7 linked regions of the Homo sapiens genome follow. The protein of the gene in region 1 purifies or fractionates together with the protein of each later gene. This does not show direct contact. Each region holds a gene or a part of one and is shown in the gene's direction. Other genes may lie near its edges.

Region 1 (3,996 bases):
GGGTTCTGAAATCCCACGCAGCTGGGGGCAGGGCGAGGGCAGCTCCAGCGCAGTGACGCTGTCTCCACCCACCTCAACTTCTCTGCTTGAGTTTGGGAGTTCACTGCCAACAATTCTTGTGGCTCAGACACCCCACGCACACCTGGGCCTCACCACATCCGGCAGCAGGGCTGGGGGAGGGCGGAATGGAGGGGATACCCAGGCCCCCAGTCCTCCGGGTGCAGTGCTAGCCCTGGACTTTGCTGCCCGGCGGGGCTGGACAGGGAGGCCTAGGATGGGGGAGGCCAGTTCTGTTCTGCTTCTCCCTCTTCCCCTTGCCAAGGTCTTGAAATCCCCGCAGGCCTGGGGAGGGCCGGGAGCGTCAGCGGACTTCCCTCCAGGGCGGGCTTGTGGCAGGGGGAAGTACTTCTCTCTGGGGCCTGGGGGCTTTCCCTGCACCCAGGAGGAAGAAGCTTTGCCCTACACATAACTGGAAACCAGTCACAGACCCCTGCTTTCCCCATGAAAGGCCCTGGGACCCCCCCTCATTTCCCTTCGGCCCAAGCCCAGGGGCCTGGGCCCCGGGGACTGTGTTCTGGCCTAGCTTGGCCACCAACCTACTGCAAGACCCTGAGTACTGGTCTTATCCAGGCAATGGGGGGTGGGGAGGGGGAGGAGAGAGAAAGTCCCTCTGGCTCAAGGTCTCCAAATAGATGAGAAATAGGACATCTCAGCAGGGACCCCCCCCATCATCCAGTGTAGAAATCACCCGTGGCAGCAGGCATTTGTCAATGTTTGTGGTGACAAATTTCTAAGAGGAAAATTCTGGGAGGGAAAGGGAAAAGGCAGAGGAAGCGTGGGGTTAGGGGGTGGGGTACTCCAAGGGTCATCGTTGGCCCTAAAGGGGGACCTGCATCTGAGAAGCTGGGTTCCCCAGGACTGAGTGGCTTGGGACAGGTCAAAGGGTGGGCGCAAAAACGGAGGGGTGCTAGTCCCTCCGACTCCGGGTAACACCTTCCCTTCCCTTAGTCGCTGGTCCCCGCCTCCTCCCGGTGTGTTGGTCCCCGCGCCCTGCCTTCCCCCTCAACCTCCCCCCCGCCCCGAAGTCTCCAGGTCAGCCCAGACTGCGCCCCACGTGAGGGGCGGGGGCGGGCGCGGGCGCCAGCGCCTTCCTGCTCTGCCCTTGTATGGTGCCCCGGAGGCCGGCCCACGGGTACTTAACCCGGGCCGCCGCGGAGGGCGCCCGGAGTCGACCGCTCGGGCAGCGCCACCGCCACGAGAGCCCGGGACGCGGGAAAGACCGAAAGGAAGAGGAAGAGGCACCGGTGGCCATGGGGCTGGAGGCGGCGCGCGAGCTGGAGTGCGCGGCGCTGGGCACGCTGCTGCGGGATCCGCGGGAGGCGGAACGCACGCTGCTGCTGGACTGCCGCCCCTTCCTGGCCTTCTGCCGGCGCCACGTGCGCGCCGCGCGGCCAGTGCCTTGGAACGCGCTGCTGCGGCGCCGCGCGCGCGGCCCTCCTGCCGCCGTTCTCGCCTGCCTGCTGCCCGACCGCGCGCTGCGGACGCGCCTGGTCCGCGGGGAGCTGGCGCGGGCCGTGGTGCTGGACGAGGGCAGTGCCTCGGTGGCGGAGCTCCGGCCCGACAGCCCGGCTCATGTGCTGCTGGCCGCGCTGCTGCACGAGACCCGCGCGGGGCCCACTGCCGTGTACTTCCTGCGAGGTGAGCAAGCCGGCCGCCCTTGGCCCGCCCCACCCGACTCCAGCCCGGCTTTCCCTGCTGATCGTGCTCTTCCCCTCCTTGCAGGAGGCTTCGACGGCTTCCAGGGCTGCTGTCCCGATCTGTGCTCTGAGGCCCCCGCCCCTGCGCTGCCGCCAACAGGGGACAAAACCAGCCGCTCCGACTCCAGGGCTCCTGTCTACGACCAGGTGAGTATTGACCCCCCTCCCCCGAACCTCCCTCTCTCCCCGCCGCGGACTGGGCGCCTCTAGGGAAAGAGCCTGCCATTTGGGGATGCGAGCAGTTTGCCCATATACACACACTTTTATACGTGTGTGTGTTGGGGGAGGGGGTGGGGCATGGCTGCTCGCGCGTGCCTGTATGGGTCTGTGTATGTTTGCATGTGTATGTTGGGAGCATGAAGGGAAATGTATGTCCCGGTGTGTCCTCCGCACATTCCTGAGACCTGTCTCAGGTCAGGAGGACTGGCTGAGGAGTCCTCTTGTCTCGGCCAGCCCATGGGGTCTCCACCCGCTGCTGCTCCAGCTCTCCGGGGCTGGGCTGGAAAGGCCTCACCGCCCCTCTGTTCCCTCCAGGGTGGCCCTGTGGAGATCTTGCCCTACCTGTTCCTGGGCAGCTGCAGTCACTCGTCAGACCTGCAGGGGCTGCAGGCCTGTGGCATCACAGCCGTCCTCAACGTGTCCGCCAGCTGCCCCAACCACTTTGAGGGCCTTTTCCGCTACAAGAGTATCCCTGTGGAGGACAACCAGATGGTGGAGATCAGTGCCTGGTTCCAGGAGGCCATAGGCTTCATTGGTAAGGGGGCACCTCTGCCCAGAAATCCCGAGGGGCTCCAGAGGAGAGGACTGGGGGCACCTGTCTCCTGGGCTGTGCACATTCCGTCTGACACCACTCCCCCATCTCCCTTGCAGACTGGGTGAAGAACAGCGGAGGCCGGGTGCTGGTGCACTGCCAGGCGGGTATCTCGCGCTCTGCCACCATCTGTCTGGCATACCTCATGCAGAGTCGCCGTGTGCGGCTGGACGAGGCCTTTGACTTCGTTAAGCAGCGCCGGGGGGTCATCTCCCCCAACTTCAGTTTCATGGGGCAGCTGCTGCAGTTTGAGACCCAGGTGCTGTGTCACTGAGGTGGTGCCCCTCTGCCTGCCTGCCCCACTGTGCTGGCAGGAGCTGACTGTGGACTGGTGGGCTCCCCTCTGGGCCAGCACAGTCCCCTCACCTCTGGCAGGGCTGCTACCTCCTCAGAGTTTCAGAAGCCCCCACATGGGGGCTCTAGGAATGCCGGCATGCTGGTCTTTCCGACCTGGTGCTCTTCTGCTGGGGGACTGAGGCTGGCCCTCATTCGGGGTCGGGAACCAAGGGTGTGTCTGCTCTTTCCCTCCCCATCCTCTGGCAGAAATCAGCTAGACGCTATACCGTGGACTCTCCCTGGTCCACCACCATGTTGAAGCCCTTGGCAGCCTGAGAGCTCCAAGGAACAAGCTGTGACAACCAGGAGCCCTGTCTGTGGGTTCGTCTGCCCAGGGCCTGGAGCCCAAGCCCTGTGTTCCTGGGGAAGCTGGGGACTTGGGAAGTGATGGGTGTGTCATGTTGCGTGTGTCTGTCTGTGAGCCTTTCACACCTGTGCTGGCGCTGGAAAATTATTTGTGCTCAGCTGACATTTAACACTCCCTCCCCCGCTTCCTCCTAGCCCTGTGGGCAGGGGTTGGAAACTTAGCACTTTATATTTATACAGAACATTCAGGATATGTCAATAAAATATTGTTATATTTAAAAAACAACAACCCAGCATCTGGTCTCATCTGATACCCGGGAGCCTGCTTGGACCTCACGTTTCCTTGTGCCCTTGGGGTTTGGGAAGTGAATGGGCAGAGGGGCCAGCGGCCGGAAGGGGCAGGTCTGACCCTCCCCACAAAGGCTGCTCTCTTGGCCCCAGTTCTCCCTGGGCTGGCGTCTTTTCCCAGACAGGGACCTCGCTCCAGAGCTGAACAGGGTTGTTTCTGGGAGGCTGGGTCCCGTCCGTGACTCAGAGCCAGGCCCAGTGCTGCCCCGATCAGACCCCGCTTCCTTTTCGGAATGTGGAAGGATGCGAGTGTGTGCCTGAGGGTGTGGTCCTGTGGGGGTGGGTGGTCTTGGCCCATGCACACCTGCATGTTGCGCATGGTGTTCCTGTGGGAGCGTGTGTGCACGCCCACACAAGAGGCACTTCCCAGGCCGTGTGGGTCTCTACTTCCTCACAGCAGGCCTGCATGGCCTCCCTACTCTTCTCCCACATCCCAGG
Region 2 (3,500 bases), on another chromosome or scaffold:
GTGGAGGAGCCGTCCCCCCAGCTCCCAGCCGACCGTTTCTCCCCCGAGTTTGTGGACTTCACTGCTCAGTGGTGAGTCTTGGGTGCTGCTGAGCGCCTGCCACTGCCCCTCCCTGGCCAGATCCCTGCACCTTCCTGGGCCCTGTTCCTTTATTCCTTTGGCAAATAAACCCCCAGATGACTTGGCATCCAAATATGTAAGGCAGAAACAGCTGGAGCATGAGGAGCATTTGACAAAACGATGGTCTTGGTGGGAGATTTTAATACAGTTCTTCCAGAAGTGGACAAATCAGATAGACTGAAAAAGAGAACAAAGTATATGGAAAATTTGAACACAAAAAACAAGTTTGCTTTTATTGATATCTAGAACTTTGTACCAAATTAAAGAATGCCCCATAGGAGCCTTATAAAAATCATGTTTGAGAGGCTGGGCACGGTGGCTCACGCCTGTAATCCCAGCACTTTGGGAGGCCGAGGCAGGCGGATCCCGAGGTCAGGAGTTTGAGACCAGCCTGACCAACATGGTGAAACCCCGACTCTACTAAAAATAGGAAAATTAGCCGGGCGTGGTGGCGCATGCCTATAATCCCAGCTACTCAGGAGGCTGAAGCAGGAGAGTCGCTTGAACCCGGGAGCCGGAGGTTGCAGTGAGCCTGAGCCGAGATCATGCCACTGCACTCCAGCATGGGTGACAGAGTGAGACTGTCTCAAAAAAAAAAAAAAATCATGTTTGAGGTTACAGAAGGAATAAGGAAGAGGGCAACTTCTCTGAACTTAATTAAATAGAGCAAGAATTGGGTAAGGAAGAAGCGGCCGGGTGCGGTGGCTCACACCCATGGTCCCCGCACTTTTATTGTTGACCATAATCAGCAACAGAGGAGCCCAGCAGAGTCCCTGGGCAGTCTGACCCCTTTAATTGTGGACTAACTTCTCCCAGAACCCATGATAAGGAGTTTCTCTCCTGATTGAGGATACCAAGTGTGTGACTGTTAGGCAGAGCATTGCAGCCCCATTTTGGTGTTGATATGGAAATTCCTAGGTCACTATGCAGACAAGAAAACCAGGACCCCAGGAGCCAGAGAAACTTGCTGCAAGTCTCTAGTTTGCTCCTATGAATGCCCCTCCACCCTGGAAGAAGCCCTAGACAGTCCTGTCCCTTCTTCCCTGGGTGCACGTGTCCCCTGCTGCTAGGCCTGGGGCAATCCTGGGGTGGTTTGGCTGGCCCTTGGGGGCTGGGCTTCCTCCCTGCCAGCCTGGCCACAGCTGCACTATTCTCTCCTAGCCTGAGGAAGAACCCCGCAGAGCGTATGAGCTACCTGGAGCTGATGGTGAGTATGGGCGGGAGGTGCCTGCCCTGCTCTTCAGGGCTGGCTGGGGCTGGGTGGGGCTCTGGGGAGAGGGCTGCATCCTGCACACAGATGGGTAGCTCCTCTGGCTGGCCCTGTGTTCTCTCCTTTAGGTGCTCGGTCATTTGTTTGCTCCTGCATACCTGGCTCCCTCCTCCCTCCTTCCTGCATGCCAGGCCCTGGGAAGGGTACACAGGCAGTGTGTGACAGAATGGGGCAGAGGGGCCAAGGGTGGCATCAGGGAAGGCTTCATGGAGGAGGTACCATTTGAACTGAGCCTGGAAGGATGAATAAGGGTTATCTCCTGATGGAGAGGCTGTCCCAAGCAGAAGGTCCAGCATGGGCAGAGGCCTGACGTGTGGGGGGAAAGGGAGGTTAGTGTGGCTGGAGAGTGACCACAAGAGAGCTGAGGAGGAGCCACAGATGCCATCTGTGACAGTCATGGAGGGCCTCCTGGGGGTGGAGGTCCTAGAAGGATGAGTAGGATTTTGCCAGTCAGGAGAACACTTGGGCTGGAGCTGGTTGGGGAAGAGTGGCCACCTCTCCCTCCCGCTACCCCTCCATGGTGACTGTGCCTTCTGTCACCCCCAGGAGCACCCCTTCTTCACCTTGCACAAAACCAAGAAGACGGACATTGCTGCCTTCGTGAAGGAGATCCTGGGAGAAGACTCATAGGGGCTGGGCCTCGGACCCCACTCCGGCCCTCCAGAGCCCCACAGCCCCATCTGCGGGGGCAGTGCTCACCCACACCATAAGCTACTGCCATCCTGGCCCAGGGCATCTGGGAGGAACCGAGGGGGCTGCTCCCACCTGGCTCTGTGGCGAGCCATTTGTCCCAAGTGCCAAAGAAGCAGACCATTGGGGCTCCCAGCCAGGCCCTTGTCGGCCCCACCAGTGCCTCTCCCTGCTGCTCCTAGGACCCGTCTCCAGCTGCTGAGATCCTGGACTGAGGGGGCCTGGATGCCCCCTGTGGATGCTGCTGCCCCTGCACAGCAGGCTGCCAGTGCCTGGGTGGATGGGCCACCGCCTTGCCCAGCCTGGATGCCATCCAAGTTGTATATTTTTTTAATCTCTCGACTGAATGGACTTTGCACACTTTGGCCCAGGGTGGCCACACCTCTATCCCGGCTTTGGTGCGGGGTACACAAGAGGGGATGAGTTGTGTGAATACCCCAAGACTCCCATGAGGGAGATGCCATGAGCCGCCCAAGGCCTTCCCCTGGCACTGGCAAACAGGGCCTCTGCGGAGCACACTGGCTCACCCAGTCCTGCCCGCCACCGTTATCGGTGTCATTCACCTTTCGTGTTTTTTTTAATTTATCCTCTGTTGATTTTTTCTTTTGCTTTATGGGTTTGGCTTGTTTTTCTTGCATGGTTTGGAGCTGATCGCTTCTCCCCCACCCCCTAGGGTACCAGCAGGCAGAGCCTTGCCCTCTGCTCAGGCTGGGGTCCAGTGGGAGGGGCCCAAGATCTCTGCTCAGAGAAGTGCAGGGGGAGCCTTCCAGCTCACTCTCCCTGAGGACTGGCTTGACAGGGGCTATGGGTTTGCTTTGGTGTTGTTTTTAAAAAAAGAAAATATATTTTTTTGAAAAAACGACTGCCCATCCCGGGTCCTTTCCCTGATGGGTTGGGGCAGTTACCTGGTTGCTGTTTTAATTAAAAAAAAAAAAAAAAAAAGGACTAAAGGTTGTGTGAGATTGTGTATGACACCTGTGAGCCCCCCTCTTACTTGGGGAAGGTTGTGGCCCTTCAAGGGACCCTTGTCTCTGGGCCAGGGGCAGGGTGTCGTGCTCAGGGGAGGGAGGACTGCCAACCTACCAGGCCCTTCTACATCTGAGGACACAGAGGCCCCCAGAGGGCTGTGATGAGGTAACATCCTGTGATCATCCAGGCACCAGGCCCTGTACTGACACTGGACAGAGCAGCGAACACACAGGTCCAGTCTGCTGGTGGCGGCCACCCATCCCACTGTCCTGAAGTAGTGATGACAGCCAGGTCACAGAGCAGCGAGCACCCTGCACACTTTGCCTGGGCTGGACACGGTGACCTCATGGAGGTTACCTGACCTCCAGTTTACAGATGGGAACAACAGACCCAGAGAGCTGACATCACTTACCCAAAGCCACACAGCTTATAAGACAGAAAAACAGACTTG
Region 3 (3,500 bases), on another chromosome or scaffold:
CCGCTCCCGGCAGACTATCTTCCTGTCCTTGCTGTAGCTGCCCCAGCTCTGGCTCTGTCCATCCCACTGTTCTTTCTCTCTCTGCTCACAGTGCTGGGGGAAAGATGGCAGGGCCAGAGTAATAAGAGAGGCAGAATCTGACAAAGATCTTATGAACATGCCAGACCAGAAGCAGAGAGGCCAGTGGAAGCACTCATTTCCCAGAAACTAGATTATTTCATTAGTGATTAACAAAATAAGAAATTGAATTATGAGAGCCAGGAACCTCATGCCCCCGGAGGAGCTCCAGGCCAGCTGAGCAGGTTGGGTGGGGGTAGGCGTGAAGGAGGAAAATGCTGTGGGATTTGTTTCTGTATCCTGCCCCCCAGGAGCAGTATAGTTGCCTCCTCCTCATTGTCCCCACTCTCCTACTCCTTTAAGGGCTGGTACTGGAAAGTGGAGATGGTGCCTTCCTGACATATGTGGTCCTCCTTCTTCATCTTTTTCTCCTTTCTTTCTCTTTCTTCCTTCTCCTTCTCCTCCTCTCTCCCCTCCCAACAAATCCTTGGGGTCAGCAAGGGGCTGGAGCCCAGGATGGAGTGTGTCTGTCATATTTGAGACTTTCACCCCAGCCCCAGGAGTTCCAGTCCCTGGGCCATGCCATTTAGCCATAACCGAGGGTAGAAGCTGGCAGATCCTGGAACAGAAGTGGATGTGGCAGCTGCTGGGTGATGGTGGGGACCCCTGTGGATAGTGAGCTGAGCCGTTTGGGTAATACTATCATGCTTTGTCTCCCCAGCTCTGGCATTGCCCGTGACCCCTCAGAAAGAATGGCTGCACATGGACACTGTCGAGCTGGAGAAGCTCCACTGGACCCAGGACTTGCCCCCTGTCCGGCGGCAGCAGACACAGGAGGTGAGGAGGGCCACCTGGCCTACAAGGGGTGGGTGAGATAGGGCAGGAGAGGAGCTGCTGCTCTTGCCCTCAGAACTCAGGCCTTTCTATTGCCCAGAGCCTGAGAAGCATCTCTCCTTTGCTCTCACCCACCTTTACCATCACTCTGCCTGGCCCCCAAGGCCAGATAAGCCCCATTTCTGGTAGAAGTAGAGTCAGTACCTAAGTCCTGAAAGGCCTGGGATTAAAGGTGGGGAGTGGGTGTGGGAAGGTTGCTGGAGCCCCCAGACCACAGTCCTCTTTCTCTTCCCATTAGAGGATGCAGGCTCGATTCAGTCTTCAGGGAGAACTACTGGCCCCTGACGTGGACCTGCCCACCCACCTGGGTCTGCACCACCATGGAGAGGAGGCAGAGGTGAGGCATGGGACTGGAGAGGATGGGGCAGCTCTTTTAACAACCCCATGGAAAAGGATCTCTGGTCAACTGCCTTTGACCTTCTGTGTGCCCTGTTCTAGTTCATGCCTTTGCTGTGCATTCAGTTTCTTTTTTTGGAGACAGAATCTCGCTCTGGCCCAGGCTGGAGTGCAGTGGTATGATCTTGGCTCACTGCAGCCTCCACCTCCTGGGTTCAAGCCATTCTCCTGCCTCAGCCTCCTGACTAGCTGGGATTACAGGCGCATGCCACCACGTCCAGCTAATTTTTGTATTTTTAGTAGAGACGGGGTTTCACCATGTTAGCCAGGATGGTCTTGATCTCCTGAGCTTGTGATCCGCCTGCCTCGGCCTCCCAAAGTGCTGGGATTACAGGCGTGGCATTCAGTTTCTTAGGCTCAAAATCTTGATCCTCTCTCCGTATTCTGGTCAGTTGCTAGAATTTGCCGATCTTCTGTCACCTCCTCATGATGCCTCCTGCACTGTGGCCTTGCTTCCTTGGTCTGCTCACTCTCCATGCCCTCCATTCTCCGCCCCCCTGCCATTCCATGTCTCTCGGGGCTGCTGTGCTGATTTCTTCTGGCCCAGCTCAGGCCATGCCTTGCCTCCAGAAGTTTCCCAGCTTCCCTCTGCTCACAAAATAAGGTTCTGGTCTCAGCTGGGCAAGATATTCCTTCTACCTTTTGTCCCTGCTGACCCTGCTGCTCTGCCTCCTTCACTTCCTGCTACACCACTCTGCTGGCTTCTCCCCACATACCTCCTGTGCTCAGGGCCCTCCAGGACTCCACTCGCTCCAGGAAATGCCTTTGCCTTTTGCTCCATGTCAGGCCATCAAAGCTCTACCCATCCACTGAGACCAATTTAATTTTCCAGGTTCCCTTCTCTCTCTCTCCTGTCCGCCGGTCGCAAATTAAACATCAGTTATCACGTTCCTCTGCATCTGCCTCATGGCATGGTTACTTGTATGCAAGTCTTATCTTTACCGGCTTGAGGCTCCATGGAAAGCAGGGCAGATTTCACTTATTTATCTTTGTCTTTCCTGTGATACCTTGCTTGGTGTTTTGGGGGCACTGTGCTGTATCCTGGCTGCTTCTGACTTCTTGTCCCTGCCCCAGAGAGCGGGGTATTCCCTACAGGAGCTGTTCCACCTGACCCGCAGCCAGGTTTCCCAGCAGAGAGCACTGGCACTGCATGTGTTAGCCCAGGTCATCAGCAGGGTGAGTGGATTGCCAGCCTGGTCCTGCCCACCCTTCCCTTCACCCCACAGCCTCAGACTTCCCCATCTCCTGCCCTTTTCACTCTGGCTCACTAGCCAGCTATGTGCTTTTAACAACCTAGGATCATAGGGGGGCAAACGAAGGATTAGGGCAAAGCCTCTAGATAACTTCAGCATCTTCAGCAAGGTTTTACCCTCCTGCCCTCAGGCCCAGGCTGGTGAGTTTGGGGACCGGCTAGCAGGCAGTGTCTTAAGCCTCCTTTTGGATGCTGGTTTCCTCTTCCTACTGCGCTTCTCCTTGGATGACAGAGTGGATGGGGTCATTGCAACCGCCATCCGTGCTCTTCGGGCTCTGCTGGTGGCTCCTGGAGATGAGGTACCACAGGGATAGGAATGGGGCTTGGGCTGGGAGGTGCCAGGGTCCATATTCCTGTTCCTGGGCATGGCCCCATTGCTAAGGCTTTGCGGGCAAGATGTAGAATGGGATGGCAGGCGTCTCCCTCATCTCCTAAAGTCCCTAAAGCCCAGGAGGCTTGCCTTTATGGTTTTTATTGGGGAGCATCCTCTCTACTCCTGGATCCATTTCCTGGCCCCTTCAGCATTGCCCCCCAACTCCCGTTCCTCTGGCAGGAGCTCCTCGACAGCACCTTCTCTTGGTACCATGGAGCTTTGACGTTCCCTCTGATGCCCAGCCAGGAGGACAAGGAGGATGAGGACGAGGATGAAGAATGCCCAGCAGGAAAAGCAAAAAGGAAAAGCCCTGAAGAAGAAAGCCGGCCTCCACCTGACCTGGCCCGACATGATGTCATCAAGGTAAAGGGACAGCTTCTTTCCCATCCCATGGCCCAGGGGACAAGCACATGCTGGAAAGAGGGGCCATCAATGCCCAGGGTCCAGCTGCATTTGTCAGTGGGTTTCTCTCTCCAACTCCCAGGGGCTCCTGGCTACCAGCCTGCTGCCTCGGCTGCGCTACGTGCT
Region 4 (3,500 bases), on another chromosome or scaffold:
AAAGACTGATGAAACTAAAGCCTAATTTTCGTTATGGAGGAAAAATGATACGTGGCTTTCGACTACATTCTGCTGGAAGTTCCGAGACCTGGGTTCTCGCCTAGCAGTCCCTGCTTCTTAATTCCTTGCTTATTCTGGGACAAGTCACCATCGGTCCCTGCCTCAGTTTCCTCAGCTGGATATATTATTTTAATCACTGTGAGAAAATAGAGGTGTTGATTTAACATTGATCATTTTCACATTTTGACAACCAGTTTACCTGCCTTTGCTCCCTTTCACAACTCTTCTTTCTCAATCTCTTGGTTTGTGGTAAATTCATTTCTATAATAGCTCAAGTTAAGAAGAGGGTCTTCTTTTCCTGTCATCCTGTGTAACAAAAATAGCCCAGGAATAGTGAGGAATGGTATCACTTATGCACAGATTCCAGAGTGTGAATGAGACTTTAGCGATGGCAGCACAGTGTAGCCACATGGAGAGGTGTGTGCGGCCCTGGTTTCACTTAAGTGATGATGTGTGAGGGAGACTCGAGAGGAAGGCCCCAGCACCTGCCCAGACAGCACAGTGCCAGAGAAAAGCATTCAGTGATCATGATAGCACCTGTGAGGTTTTGTTTTTCCTTCTTAACAAGCGTTAGTCTTTTGACCACTTGAAGATTTTATGACCCCAGTTTATATAAGAAATGTACTTAATTTGTCATTAAAATTTAGTTTCCAGAGGCTTTTTAGTATGATATGTCAGATATCCTTTTTGAAGAATATATGTATGAAAATGATTGTAAATACAAATCTTCTTCGGATTTGGGGATCAGTTGCTATGTGGGGATAGTGTAAATGCTTCTGCACAAGCTTACGGTTCCACTTCGGATCCCCTCAGATTGTTACCAGCGCTTAGAATTCCTGGGAGATGCGATTTTGGACTACCTCATAACCAAGCACCTTTATGAAGACCCGCGGCAGCACTCCCCGGGGGTCCTGACAGACCTGCGGTCTGCCCTGGTCAACAACACCATCTTTGCATCGCTGGCTGTAAAGTACGACTACCACAAGTACTTCAAAGCTGTCTCTCCTGAGCTCTTCCATGTCATTGATGACTTTGTGCAGTTTCAGCTTGAGAAGAATGAAATGCAAGGAATGGATTCTGAGGTTAGTGCTGTTCAAAACGATGTTGAAAAAAGTGGTCTAACTAGGAGTCTCTGTAGTTTCAGAGTTCTGACGGCATAGTGGTCTAAAGGGACAGCAGGAGGTCAGGGGTGTGGGACCCAGTGTGCTGTGTTCTGTGGGAGCACGAGTGAACTGCAGTTTGCAGGTAGGCCTCTTGAACTTGTCTGCCCCCACTGTGGGCTGTGTGGTCATTCAGGTGAAGAGAAGGAACCAGGCCTTTCAGTTAGGTACCCTTCCCACGCCTTCATGAGGGCTTCCAGCATTGAGGCATGCCAAAGAAGTGGCCTCCACTGCCGGACCCCAAGGCAGGTTTAGCTTTAGTAAAAGCCCAGTGTAGCTTATCCTTCCTTTTTTAAATGGATCAGAAATATTTGCTAATATCTCAGGGAAGCATCATAAATATACATTCTGCTTCTACTTGAAGTGGGAAAATCTAATTTAAAAAACAAACTTCTAAATTTTTGACCATTGGAATTTGGGAGGCTTCTATTGTAAGTTCAGCCAAAGGCTGTCTGGTGACAGAGCTAATTCTAATGTGTTTGTGAGCTATTTCGAATTTTTGTAGGAAAGGATATTGCTTAGATCTTTCCAGTCTCTTAACATTCATCTGCATACCTGTGTCCCCCAGAGAGACTCTCATTTCCTCCTCTTCCCATTTCATTTCCTTTGATTTTCTTATTTTTGTAGATTTTCTTATAAGGAGTCAGGAAATACAACCTTAATACTAGTAGCTGTTTTAGTTGTCATTGCTTTAATTTGTACCTTCCCCTTTTTAATTGCACCAAACCTTTGTTGGGGAGTAGTGACTTTCTATGACAAAAATTAAGAGTAGGTTTGAAGTCTAGCCGCAGAGCCGAGTTCACGCCCTGCCAGCTGCCCAGATGTGCACTGGAGGAGTCAGTAGGCCCTGCTCTTACTTTAACGCGCCTCTGTGCTCTTGTCCAAGATGAACAGCCTGAGCTGGAGCGTGGCAGGCTGTGAGGCGAGAAGGCGGGACCAGCTCGTAGACTTCCAAGTGTTACCTAGTCTCATTCTTTAGAAATAGCTAAGCTTGAAATTTGAGGAATTAGTTAAAATTAGATTTAAGCTCTCTTTGGATGCCAGTGGGGCATATTGGTTTTGTTAGTTTTTGTTCATTCTTTTCCTTCCCTTTGTTTATATAAACATATGTATAGAAGTTACAAGAACTGATTGGAAATGTCATGGTCTGGCATTTCTAACTTACTATTTGATCTTAAGAAAGTCTCTTTACCTCTCTGGGCCTCCGTTTCCTCAGCTGTAAAAAGAGAGAATTAAACTTGGTAAGTTTTAAAATTCCTTTCTATCTCAAAACCATAAATATGAACAATAAGTCTGTTTTTTTAAGTAATCAGCAGTATAAATGTATTATATGTAACTTTGTATGGCTAAACAACCTATTAGAAATTAGTATTTTCCCACTTTCTCTTTATTTTTTTCACAAATGATTTGTGTTGATTTTAGAAAAGTTAGTACAAGTAAATAAGAAGAAAATTAGTTAAATTTGCCTGATTATGCTACCTCGGAAATAACCAATATTAACATTTTGGGAGGAATTGTGGATGTGTATAGATATAAACATATCTAAAATGTAAAATGGAATTCTGTTATGTATAGGATACTGTCACCTGTTCTTTTCACGTATAATATATTGTGGCTGACTTTCCGTGTATTGATGGGTATCGTGATGCTCAGGGGCCACACGCTAGTCAACACGTGGCTGATTGATTTAAACGCTTCTTTATGGCCGAGTAATTAAGTAGTTTTTGGTTAGGATGTTTAATAACCATGGAGGTGATAAATACGCTTATGTATCTAGTTACCTCCTTAAAATAAGTTCTTAGAGATGCAATTGCTGCATCAAAGAATTGTGAACTTTTCAAAGGCTTTTGATGCATGATTTTCTTTTATTAATTTGCATACATGCTATGTCAGATACTCGGTTATAGTGAACACATATCTAGTGGCTTAATGAAGAGGGAACTTGGAGGAAAAAATCTTTCAAATATAATTTCCCTATTTCCCTACAACAGCGATTTCTGCTCCCCAAAGCAGCATACACCCGTGCCAGCACCAGACCAATTAGTACTATTGAATGCTTGCCAAGCAGCTAGGGAGTAGAACTGTTTTAAAGTATAGTTCTTTGATTACGAGTGAATTTGAATTTTTTTCATACTTTTATTGACTATTTCTAATTCTTTGTTAAGGTTGTTTAAAGTTAGAAGTAATCTTTTTTCTTTGCTGGGTATATAGAATAATAAATGGGGTGGGGATATTTTTTCTTTTTTTCTTGAGAAGTTTGAAAAACTTTTTTAAAAATAT
Region 5 (3,500 bases), on another chromosome or scaffold:
AGCAATGATGAGTGGCATTATCAGTTTATGTTAGGGAACTTCAGATAATTGAGAGCTATACAAATTTTCCCTTTCAAATATATGAGGCTGTTATTTTTTACAACCATAGACACCAAATATAGCCATTATTCTTTTTCTTCTCTATTTTGAACAGATACTCAGAACTAACCACTGTTCAACAACAGCTAATTAGGGAGACGCTCATATCATGGCTGCAAGCTCAGGTAAAATCATAATTTCATTCAGTACCTCAAATTATTAGATATTTAAACTTATTTTTTGCAAGAGTTTGGAACTTTACCTCAAAGATTTTCATCAGTGTTCCTCCATTTGATTTCATAGCTTTTTTAAAAGGTGCTGGTTTTAAAGATCATGGAAGTGGTAGTTTAGCAATAATTTAATATTATATCAATGACTGAAATGGTCATAGTTTCCATGACACATTGTGGAAACTTTGGTTTTAAAATGTAGTTGTTTTTAACTACTTGACAAATGCTGCTTTCTGTTTGGCTCTTAAAGGTGAGCCCTCCTGGACAGCCTCTCCACCAGAGCCCTTTATAAAGGGCCAGTTGAGTTCTTTTCAGTTAATTTTAGCTAATCTTAACACATAAAGCAGTTGTGTAGCTAGAGTTTTCATTTTCCTTAAAGAGCAAGTAGAGGAAAATTTTTTTTTCTTCTTAGAAGAAATTATAGGAACTATTAAAACTCTGCACATGAAACTTTTCTGTCAAAGTGTAAGAATGAGGAATAATCATTACAGCCTTTAATGGTTCATTTAATTGTTCTTCATCTGGTCAATCACTTAAATACTTTTGATAATTTTGATAATCATAATTATCAAAATAATTTTGAAGAGTATTTGTTGCATAGTTTATCTGGGCCATGTTGACATTTGATGAAACTTTGCCTTTTAATAAGACAACTGGTGTTTCTGGGTCTTTTCAATTTACATTTAATTTTATGGACTGTTTCTCTGTTTGTCAGATGCTGAATCCCCAACCAGAGAAGACCTTTATACGAAATAAAGCCGCCCAAGTCTTCGCCTTGCTTTTTGTTACAGAGTATCTCACTAAGTGGCCCAAGTTTTTTTTTGACATTCTCTCAGTAGTGGACCTAAATCCAAGGGGAGTAGATCTCTACCTGCGAATCCTCATGGCTATTGATTCAGAGTTGGTGGATCGTGATGTGGTGCATACATCAGAGGCAAGTAACTAACCATGAATTTTTTATATTTAATGTAAGTTTTGTAGGTGATAATGGGCACATAATAAAAAGAGCAGGGAAGTTTTCTTTCTTGAGGTAAACTTTCTTAAGTTATATAATTATAAATTTACCTGATGTTTTGGATTTTATTTTATGAAGGAACTCAAACTTGGTTATTTTTTTTCCAGAGGTATATTGAAATTAAAGTATTACATTACATTTTTTATTTTTTTACTTTTTTGAGACGGAGTCTTGCTCTGTTCCCCAGGCTGGAGTGCAGTGGCACAGTCTTGGCTCACTGCAACCTCCGCCTCCTGGGTTCAAGCGATTCTCCCACCTCAGCCTCCCTAGTAGCTGGGATTATAGGCACATGCCACCACGCCTGGCTAATTTTTGTATTTTTTGTAGAGATTGGGTTTCGCCAGGCTGTGCTCAAACTCCTGACTTCAGGTGATCCGCCCGCCTTGCCCTCCCAAAGTGTGGGGATTACAGGCATGAGCCACTGCGCCCAGCCTAAATTTTTTTTAACTAGGCAAATACTGTAGTGACATACACGAGTTGATTTTCTTTTATGAATCTGTTGAGAAAGGTAGTCTCAATTTAATACTGCTATATAGTCCCTGAGCAAGGAAGAAGCATTGCTTAGGAGTTGTCCGTGTTGCTACTTCTGTATTCTTCATCACATAGTGTAAGTACTATGTTACTATATTGAGAAATAACTTAAAATATGCTTAAGATTTCTAAGCAGTGCTTTTTATAGTTTGTATTTACTAAGAAATTAACTCTGACACTGAGGAGTAGAACAGAAAGAGGAAATACAAAGAATCACAGGATATGATCTTAGAGCTGGTAAATAGGAAATACTGGTAGGGAATGTGTTAACAAGTCTGAAAGTTTACTCTCTGCAAGTATATTCAGATATCAAACATGATTTTGTAAGGTAATCTACTTTGCATTTGGCGTTTTGTATTTTAGGAGGCTCGTAGGAATACTCTCATAAAAGATACCATGAGGGAACAGTGCATTCCAAATCTGGTGGAATCATGGTACCAAATATTACAAAATTATCAGTTTACTAATTCTGAAGTGACGTGTCAGTGCCTTGAAGTAGTTGGGGCTTATGTCTCTTGGATAGACTTATCCCTTATAGCCAATGATAGGTAAGTATGCCTATTATTTTTATAGTATAAACTTGTAAAATACAGTATCTAAAACTCATGACTTTGAAAATGTTACAATTTTATTGTCCCATTACCAGGTTTATAAATATGCTGCTAGGTCATATGTCAATAGAAGTTCTACGGGAAGAAGCATGTGACTGTTTATTTGAAGTTGTAAATAAAGGAATGGACCCTGTTGATAAAATGAAACTAGTGGAATCTTTGTGTCAAGTATTACAGTCTGCTGGGTTTTTCAGCATTGACCAGGTTGGTAAATTTATATAAAACATTGTATGTAAAGTTGTTAGAACAAACTGGGATAGGTACTAAGTTAAATATAATAATAGCTTTTTTTCTTCTAAATGTTATAAACTCCCCTTGAGATTATAATATAAACCACTGCATCTAGCCAAAATGTTCTCAGTAGCATTCTCCTTGGAGAATGGGTTATACCAGTTCTTAAACCTGAAAGCCTGTAATTGCACATTTCTCACAAACTCTTAGGAGATGCTGACACAACTTGTTCATAGTGGAATTGAGATTTTTTGTTTTGTTTTGTTTTTTGAGATGGAGTCTCACTCTGTTGCCCAGGCTGGAGTGCAGTGGCACAGTCTCGGCTCACTGCAACCTCCGTCTCCCGGGTTCAAGTGATTCTCCTGTCTCAGCCTTCCGAGTAGCTGAGATTACAGGCGCATGCCACTACACCCGGCAAATTTTTTACCTTTTTGGTAGAGACGGGGTTTCACCATGTTGGCCAGGCTTGTCTCGAACTCTTGACCTCAGGTAATCCACCCACTTCGGCCTTCCAGAGTGCTGGGATTACAGGCATAAGCCACCGTGCCCAGCCTGGAATTGTTAAATATATGACGTCATTTTAAAATTGAATCCTGTAATTAGCACTTGATTCATATTAAAGTTCAGTTTTTCCTCTTAGCTTGGGCAGGCAGTTTTAAACAGAGATGTGTCTTGATTGCTTATAGGAAGAAGATGTTGACTTCCTGGCCAGATTTTCTAAGTTGGTAAATGGAATGGGACAGTCATTGATAGTTAGTTGGAGTAAATTAATTAAGAATGGGGATATTAAGAATGCTCAAGAGGCACTACAAGCTATTGAAACAAAAGTGGCACTGATGTTGC
Region 6 (3,145 bases), on another chromosome or scaffold:
GTTTTATTATTTATGAAGTGGTTAGAAAAAAAAAATCTCTAATATTGTTCAACAAATTCAGATAGGAAAAATCTTCTCAGAATTGAAGTTTTGCTAAGAAGGGATTTAATCTTTCTTTGCCTGCCACCGGTGTATGTGTGTGATTGTGTGTGCACATATACTTGTTGCCCTCACCTTTACACTCTGCCCCTCTTAGAGCTTCACTAACTCTCAAATCTCTAACTTAAGTTTACACTTTTCTTCTGAGCTCTAGATATTTTCCAAATTTAACATGTTTAAAAAGTACATTTATTTCCCCCCGATTCTTCACTGCTCACTTTTATACCGACTGATTACAAAGAAAAACAGATGGAAAACACACACATACACAGAAAGCTTAACTGTTGTTCTATCTTCAGTAGCAGCAGCACCAGCAACCTTATCAAATAAGCAACATCTTCAGGGTTGTCTTGAACAGTTCTCATCACCCATCAAGTTTGCTGGCTGATCCTCTAATTTGTATTCTCCTCCGTGCCTACGGGCTGCTGATACCAACAAATTTTTTTTTAGAAAGTTATCTTTTTGCATTTTAAGCTTTACAGTTTGTTATTAGGACAGTCAGGATACTTGCTGAATGTTCACATGTATAAAATGTGAATTTTAAGACTTCACAATAAAACACTGAATGAATTACTATAACGTTATATTTAGCAAACATTGTTTACATTCCATATGTAGAACACTTTACATCTTAGTAAAGGGGAAGAGGAACAAGAGCAATAAAAGAAGTTGAAAAATATTTGCTGCTATTCATCAGTCAAATTAAGGAACTGAAGTACAAGCAATCAAATAGAATGGAATTATAAAAGATGGTAAAGCTGCAAGACATTAATAGAATAGATGCTTGCTGCTCCAAGTGTGGATCATGGACCAGCAGCTTTAGCATCACCTTGGAGGTTGTTAGAAATGCAGGACTTTAGGCCCCTGCTGAATCAGAATCTGCATTTTAACAAGATCCCCAACTAATTTGTATGCACATTAAAGTTCGAGAAGCCCTGGCCTCGATACTTGTGACCTAACATTGTTTTAAGTTTGTAGTGTGCTAACGAATTTAATCTCCCACAACAACCCCGTAAGGCAAGTACCATTGCTATTTCCCATTTTATAGTTGAAGAAACCTGTTTGACCGAGGTTCCTCAGGTAGTAAGTGGCAGAGCTGGAATTTACACCCAGACATTTTGCTTTTGTATTTCTCAGTTGACTATGCTGTACTCTCTATATAAAGGGCTAAGTGAATATGGACTAAAAGCAGCTTACAAATAGGGCTTGGCAAATAAGGAAAGACAACTTGAAGGTGAGATGTGGGTGCATGGCCCTAAACTCTACATTACATTTTTTTAAACACATTCACATGTTCATTTGAAGAAATGTATTATTCATTATTGCTGTCTAAAGAGATGAATTTGGTGACCGCATCTTTTTTCTAGAATGTCAAAGTGTTATTTATTTCTCTTAACAATGAGTAAATGATGTCTTTATTACTAAACAGGATTTATTAGAATCAAAGCAAAAGCAAACACTGTATTTGAATTGATACATAGTAAATGCTCAACTAGTTGGATTTTGTCCTTTTTTTTCTAAATCTGAATGACGCTTGAGTTAATAGCACTTAATGTCAGTGTGTGCACTGATGTTTTTAAGTTTGATTGCCCACTAATCTTTTTCATTTATACAGCAGACTGAGAGGAAGATGAATTGTTGAGCTATCTGCTTAGGGGTGAAAATACTAGAAAACTTTTAACACTTTGTGTCTTCTTGGGAAATTTTTCACAGAAGAATCCCAGAGGATTTGTTTTTGTTTTTGATCTATTCTTTCCAGATAACTGTAGTAATTGATTTAAGTTTTAATCTGTTACAGAGAAAAACACTAAAACTTTATAGACAAATGATAGACAAATGGCATATACTCAAATATTTATAGCTGTTTAATGGCATTTTATAGACATTTATTTGGGTTTTGTTCTTATTTTTGTTTTTAATTAAGGGAGTAGTGGGGTAGATGTGAGTTCATTGTGGCATTCAGCTTATATTTGCTTGGCTTTTTCATGGTCGGTGACACCCTAATTCCTAGCATGATAAATAGTAACCCTTTGTGCTTGATTTTGTTTAACTTATTTGAGTTGTTTTCAAAATACATTCTTTTTAATTTAAAAAATCAGCTAAGCTTGTGTATGGTTAAGTTTTTGTTTTGTTTTGTGTTTGATTTGTTCTTTTAGGGAAAAAATCCTATAAAATGGCTATTAAATTTTTAGCCAATGACAATGAGATTTTCTTAATATTACTTTGAATTCTTTACCTCTTAATTCTTAGAGTATGTGGTTTTGTTGTTCTGTAGTGTCTTACTAAAATATTCATTTTTTTACAGTGTATTGCAAGTTCCACTGCATTACATGCAAATATGATTCACTCATACCTAGCTGTTTGTGGATTCAAACTCATAAATGAACCATTTTTAAGTTGTTAATAGTGTACTGACATATTTCTGTATTTTCTGATATTTACAGATTCGAGTGGTGAATGCATTTCGTAGTTCTTTATATGAAGGGTTAGAAAAACCGGAATCAAGAAGTTCGATTCACAACTTTATGACACATCCTGAGTTTAGGATAGAAGATTCAGAGCCTCATATCCCCCTTATTGATGACACTGATGCCGAAGATGATGCTCCTACAAAACGTAACTCCAGTCCTCCACCCTCTCCCAACAAAAATAACAATGCTGTTGACAGTGGAATTCACCTTACAATAGAAATGAACAAGTCTGCTACCTCTTCATCCCCAGGAAGCCCACTACATAGTTTGGAAACATCACTCTGATTGTAAGCTGAATGTTAACACACTAGCTGCATTGTAAAGAAACAAATTGAAACTGGGTCTTTTCACATATTGTGATGGACAAGCTAGTATTCTTGTCTTTGGACTTCAACAGAAGACACACTTGTACGAATGTAGATTTATTTTTTTAAAAAAAAAAAAGCAAAGCTTTCTGCCAGACTGAGGGTGCTTTTTGGGGGGTGGGAGAAATGAACTGACAGATAAACAGTAACTCAGCGTAAGTGACCTGTGGATCATCAGTAGTACCCAAGCATGGTCCTGAACAGTGTATT
Region 7 (3,500 bases), on another chromosome or scaffold:
CTCCTCTGGTAGAGATACAGTCCTTTTCCTTCTTCAGGGGCAAGGGGGAAAGTCTGTCCTGTGACGAAAAGCTGGGACAATGGTGATCCTGGGAAGGCATGGGAGCTCTGGACTAGAAATCCAGGGGATGGCAAAGACTTGAGTTTTCTCCCAAACTAGTTGTGTGACTTGGGCACGTCTTCTACCTTCTCATGCTCTAGTTTCTTCTCTACGTTTTTATCATTCCTAAATTGGCGGACAAGTCACTGGTGAGGGCAAAGCTAGGAACTGTTACTGCTTCTCAGGGTCAGGAACATTCTGCCTAGGTCCAGGGAGATCTCGAAAGCCAGGCAAATATTCAGAAAATTCTAAAATCTTTCTAATACCCAGGGCCTTCAGGGATGGGGCCACGTAATCTCCAGGGCCTCTCAAGCTCTGGAGTGCCTGACTGCCTTACTGCCTCCTCTGGCTCCTTCTCTCCTTCAGGTGACCAAGGGTGTCTCTCTGCTGCTGTCTGTGCTTCGGGATCCTGCCCTCCAGAAGTCCTCCAAGGCTTGGTACTTGCTGCGTGTCCAGGTCCTGCAGCTGGTGGCAGCTTACCTTAGCCTCCCGTCAAACAACCTCTCACACTCCCTGTGGGAGCAGCTCTGTGCCCAAGGTGAAAGAATAGGGTGGATGGCCCCCCTTGGATGACATGTATGGTCTGTCTGCTGTCAGCTCTTCTCAAACCTCATCCCCTCTGCTGGCTAACTATGTGGCCCAGCCTACCTAGAACCTGCACAGAGTAGGCCTGGGATAGCAGATGGGTTTCAGTTTGCCTGCTGACTCTAAACAATTGGTGACTGCCTGGAATACTAGGCTGAAAGGATTTTTTTTTCTTTTCTTTTTTTTCTAAGACGGAGTTTCGCTGTTGTCACCCAGGCTGGAGTGCAATGGTGCAATCTCAGCTCACTGCAACCTCTGCCTCCTGGGTTCAAACGATTCTCCTGCCTCAACCTCCTGAGTAGCTGGGATTACTGGCATGCGCCACTACGCCCGACTAATTTTTGTATTATTAGTAGAGGTGGGGTTTCACCATGTTGGCCAGGCTGGTCTCAAACTCCTGACCTCGGGTGATCCGTCTGCCTCAGCCTCCCAAAATGCTGGGATTACAGGCTTGGGCCACTGCGCCCAGCCAGCTGAAAGGATTCTGAGACCCCAGGGGATCTCAGAGGGAAGGAGTTATGAGATTGATTAGCTCTGCCTGCCTTAATGCAGAAGGAAGCATGGGAAGCAGGCTTTGCTGCCTTAGTAGCTAAAAGTGGTGAAGTTCTGGCTGCATCTTCTCCCTTTTTCACCCCACCCACCACAGGCTGGCAGACACCTGAGATAGCTCTCATAGACTCCCATAAGCTCCTCCGAAGCATCATCCTCCTGCTGATGGGCAGTGACATTCTCTCAACTCAGAAAGCAGCTGTGGAGACATCGTTTTTGGACTATGGTGAGTCTGGGGAGGACAGCAGGGCCCTCTTGGAATGGACAGGCTATGTGAGAGGGCTGCGGTTTTTTCTCCAGAGGATCCACACTGTGGCTGAGTGATGGTGGTCTTGTCTCTTTTGCTACAGGTGAAAATCTGGTACAAAAATGGCAGGTTCTTTCAGAGGTGCTGAGCTGCTCAGAGAAGCTGGTCTGCCACCTGGGCCGCCTGGGTAGTGTGAGTGAAGCCAAGGCCTTTTGCTTGGAGGCCCTAAAACTTACAACAAAGCTGCAGATACCACGCCAGTAAGTACAGGGCCAGAGGATATGGCAATGATGGCACCAAAGTGCCATGCACCCTTGAACATGGATTCCAAACTGTTCCACAGATTACATGCTATGTTTAGATACATTCGTGGAAAAAGGCATTCCACAGCTAAATAAGTGGGAAATGCTGAGTTAATCAAGGTTAGATGTTTTTATTTCCTGTAGGACTCTCGTGTCCTTCAGTATGCGGATGTGCCTTGCAAATCTCCAAAAGGGAGATCTAGTGTACAGTGTTTCCCTAAGAATGTTTTCCCACAGGATTCTTTTATTGAGGAATGCAGTTTGGGAAATCCTGTCCCAAGGCACAAGGAGAGTTGGGATTAGAGAGAAGTGTAGAGGGTTTTCCCCAGGGAGCCTTTAAGTCAGCTTAAGGGAGTGAATGCCTTTTGGAGGCAGGGAAGGACTCAGGTAGCTTGGCCTGGGAAAGAGGCAAAGAGAAAGACTCTCCAGGAAAACAAAGGATTCCTCTGATTGGTTCTCCTCTCCTCTCTCAACAAGGTGTGCCCTGTTCCTGGTGCTGAAGGGCGAGCTGGAGCTGGCCCGCAATGACATTGATCTCTGTCAGTCGGACCTGCAGCAGGTTCTGTTCTTGCTTGAGTCTTGCACAGGTGAGCAGCCATGTCCCCATGACCATAGGCGGTGCTGAAATGACACACACTACAGCACATCTTTCTATGTAAAGGTTTCGTTGCCTTTTTTTATTTTTGAGACAGAGTCTCACTTTATTACCCAGGCTGGAGTGCAGTGGCGTGATCTTGGCTCACTGCAACCCCTGCCTCCTGCCTCCTAGGTTCAGGTGATTCTCCTGCTTCAGCCTCCCAAGTAGCTGGGACTACAGGCATGCGCCACCACACCCGGATAATTTTTTTTATTTGTAGTAGAGATGAGGTTTCACTATGTTGGCCAGGCTGGTCTCGAACTCCTGACCTCAGGTGATCCACCCGCCTCGGCCTCCTAAAGTGCTGGGATTACAGGCATGAGCCACCGCTCCCGGCCTTTGTTCCCTTTTTAATCAGATACTGACTTCTGGTCCCAGGGCAACATTCCCTTGACTTTAGTCCAACCATTGGTCTCCCTCTTTCAGAGAGCCTGTCCCAGACTTACCCTAGTTCTAGTTTTCAGTGCTTCCTAATACATTTTGGCTATTTAAATTTGATTTAGATAATATTTAGGGCCGGGCTCGGTGGCTCATGCCTGTAATCCTAGCACTTTGGGAGGCTGAGGCAGGCGGATCATGGGGTCAGGAGTTCAAGACCAGCCTGGCCAACAAAGTGAAACCCCATCTCTACTAATAATACAAAAATTAGCCAGGCATGGTGGCGGGCACCTGTAATCCCAGCTACTCAGAAGGCTGAGGCAGGAGAATAGCTTGAACCTGGGAGGCGGAGGTTGCAGTGAGGAAGATTGCACCATTGCACTCCAGCCCGGGTGACAGTGCGAGACTCTGACTCAAAAAAAAAAAAAAAAAGAAGAAAGAAAGAAAGAAAGATAATATTTAGAATTCAGTCCTCAGTCACACTAGCCACACTTCATGTGCTCAATAGCCACATGGCTAGTGGCTACCGTATTGAGTAGCACAAACATATCCTCAGGAGGGCTGAAGCTAATAATAAAACATTGCATTGATGGCACATTTTGTCTCCCCAATCACATATACTTCTAGTACTTCATTTGCCCCACACTAGACCTCATAAAGCTGAGTGGGAGCATAGATTATTTTCATTTGTTAAATGAGAAAG

Evidence for each region.
Region 2: the proteins of DUSP2 (region 1) and MAP2K3 purify together in Homo sapiens (affinity purification with mass spectrometry, with the first as the bait; one large-scale study listed by BioGRID). This does not show direct contact.
Region 3: the proteins of DUSP2 (region 1) and RPAP1 purify together in Homo sapiens (affinity purification with mass spectrometry, with the first as the bait; one large-scale study listed by BioGRID). This does not show direct contact.
Region 4: the proteins of DUSP2 (region 1) and DICER1 purify together in Homo sapiens (affinity purification with mass spectrometry, with the first as the bait; one large-scale study listed by BioGRID). This does not show direct contact.
Region 5: the proteins of DUSP2 (region 1) and XPOT purify together in Homo sapiens (affinity purification with mass spectrometry, with the first as the bait; one large-scale study listed by BioGRID). This does not show direct contact.
Region 6: the proteins of DUSP2 (region 1) and ATP2B1 purify together in Homo sapiens (affinity purification with mass spectrometry, with the first as the bait; one large-scale study listed by BioGRID). This does not show direct contact.
Region 7: the proteins of DUSP2 (region 1) and ESPL1 purify together in Homo sapiens (affinity purification with mass spectrometry, with the first as the bait; one large-scale study listed by BioGRID). This does not show direct contact.

Annotation. Positions count from the first base shown.
Region 1 is NC_000002.12:96,142,669-96,146,664, reverse strand, and holds DUSP2 (dual specificity protein phosphatase 2), read left to right. Parts: upstream 1-1,224; 5' UTR 1,225-1,310; coding exon 1,311-1,698; coding exon of another isoform or gene 1,699-1,782; coding exon 1,783-1,904; intron 1,905-2,291; coding exon 2,292-2,511; intron 2,512-2,627; coding exon 2,628-2,842; 3' UTR 2,843-3,496; downstream 3,497-3,996. UniProt on the Homo sapiens protein: Dephosphorylates both phosphorylated Thr and Tyr residues in MAPK1, and dephosphorylation of phosphotyrosine is slightly faster than that of phosphothreonine. Can dephosphorylate MAPK1.
Region 2 is NC_000017.11:21,312,211-21,315,710, forward strand, and holds the end of MAP2K3 (dual specificity mitogen-activated protein kinase kinase 3), read left to right. Parts: coding exon 1-71; intron 72-1,281; coding exon 1,282-1,327; intron 1,328-1,936; coding exon 1,937-2,020; coding exon of another isoform or gene 2,021-2,100; 3' UTR 2,101-3,022; downstream 3,023-3,500. UniProt on the Homo sapiens protein: Dual specificity kinase. Is activated by cytokines and environmental stress in vivo. Catalyzes the concomitant phosphorylation of a threonine and a tyrosine residue in the MAP kinase p38.
Region 3 is NC_000015.10:41,527,258-41,530,757, reverse strand, and holds part of RPAP1 (RNA polymerase II-associated protein 1), read left to right. Parts: intron 1-778; coding exon 779-894; intron 895-1,189; coding exon 1,190-1,288; intron 1,289-2,421; coding exon 2,422-2,523; intron 2,524-2,730; coding exon 2,731-2,898; intron 2,899-3,152; coding exon 3,153-3,335; intron 3,336-3,456; coding exon 3,457-3,500. UniProt on the Homo sapiens protein: Forms an interface between the RNA polymerase II enzyme and chaperone/scaffolding protein, suggesting that it is required to connect RNA polymerase II to regulators of protein complex formation.
Region 4 is NC_000014.9:95,091,530-95,095,029, reverse strand, and holds part of DICER1 (endoribonuclease Dicer), read left to right. Parts: intron 1-873; coding exon 874-1,142; intron 1,143-2,335; exon of another isoform or gene 2,336-2,461; intron 2,462-3,500. UniProt on the Homo sapiens protein: Double-stranded RNA (dsRNA) endoribonuclease playing a central role in short dsRNA-mediated post-transcriptional gene silencing.
Region 5 is NC_000012.12:64,417,892-64,421,391, forward strand, and holds part of XPOT (exportin-T), read left to right. Parts: intron 1-154; coding exon 155-224; intron 225-984; coding exon 985-1,203; intron 1,204-2,178; coding exon 2,179-2,363; intron 2,364-2,461; coding exon 2,462-2,630; intron 2,631-3,343; coding exon 3,344-3,500. UniProt on the Homo sapiens protein: Mediates the nuclear export of aminoacylated tRNAs. In the nucleus binds to tRNA and to the GTPase Ran in its active GTP-bound form. Docking of this trimeric complex to the nuclear pore complex (NPC) is mediated through binding to nucleoporins.
Region 6 is NC_000012.12:89,590,694-89,593,838, reverse strand, and holds part of ATP2B1 (plasma membrane calcium-transporting ATPase 1), read left to right. Parts: intron 1-2,543; coding exon 2,544-2,855; 3' UTR 2,856-3,145. UniProt on the Homo sapiens protein: Catalyzes the hydrolysis of ATP coupled with the transport of calcium from the cytoplasm to the extracellular space thereby maintaining intracellular calcium homeostasis.
Region 7 is NC_000012.12:53,281,799-53,285,298, forward strand, and holds part of ESPL1 (separin), read left to right. Parts: intron 1-465; coding exon 466-637; intron 638-1,330; coding exon 1,331-1,459; intron 1,460-1,583; coding exon 1,584-1,740; intron 1,741-2,259; coding exon 2,260-2,369; intron 2,370-3,500. UniProt on the Homo sapiens protein: Caspase-like protease, which plays a central role in the chromosome segregation by cleaving the SCC1/RAD21 subunit of the cohesin complex at the onset of anaphase. During most of the cell cycle, it is inactivated by different mechanisms.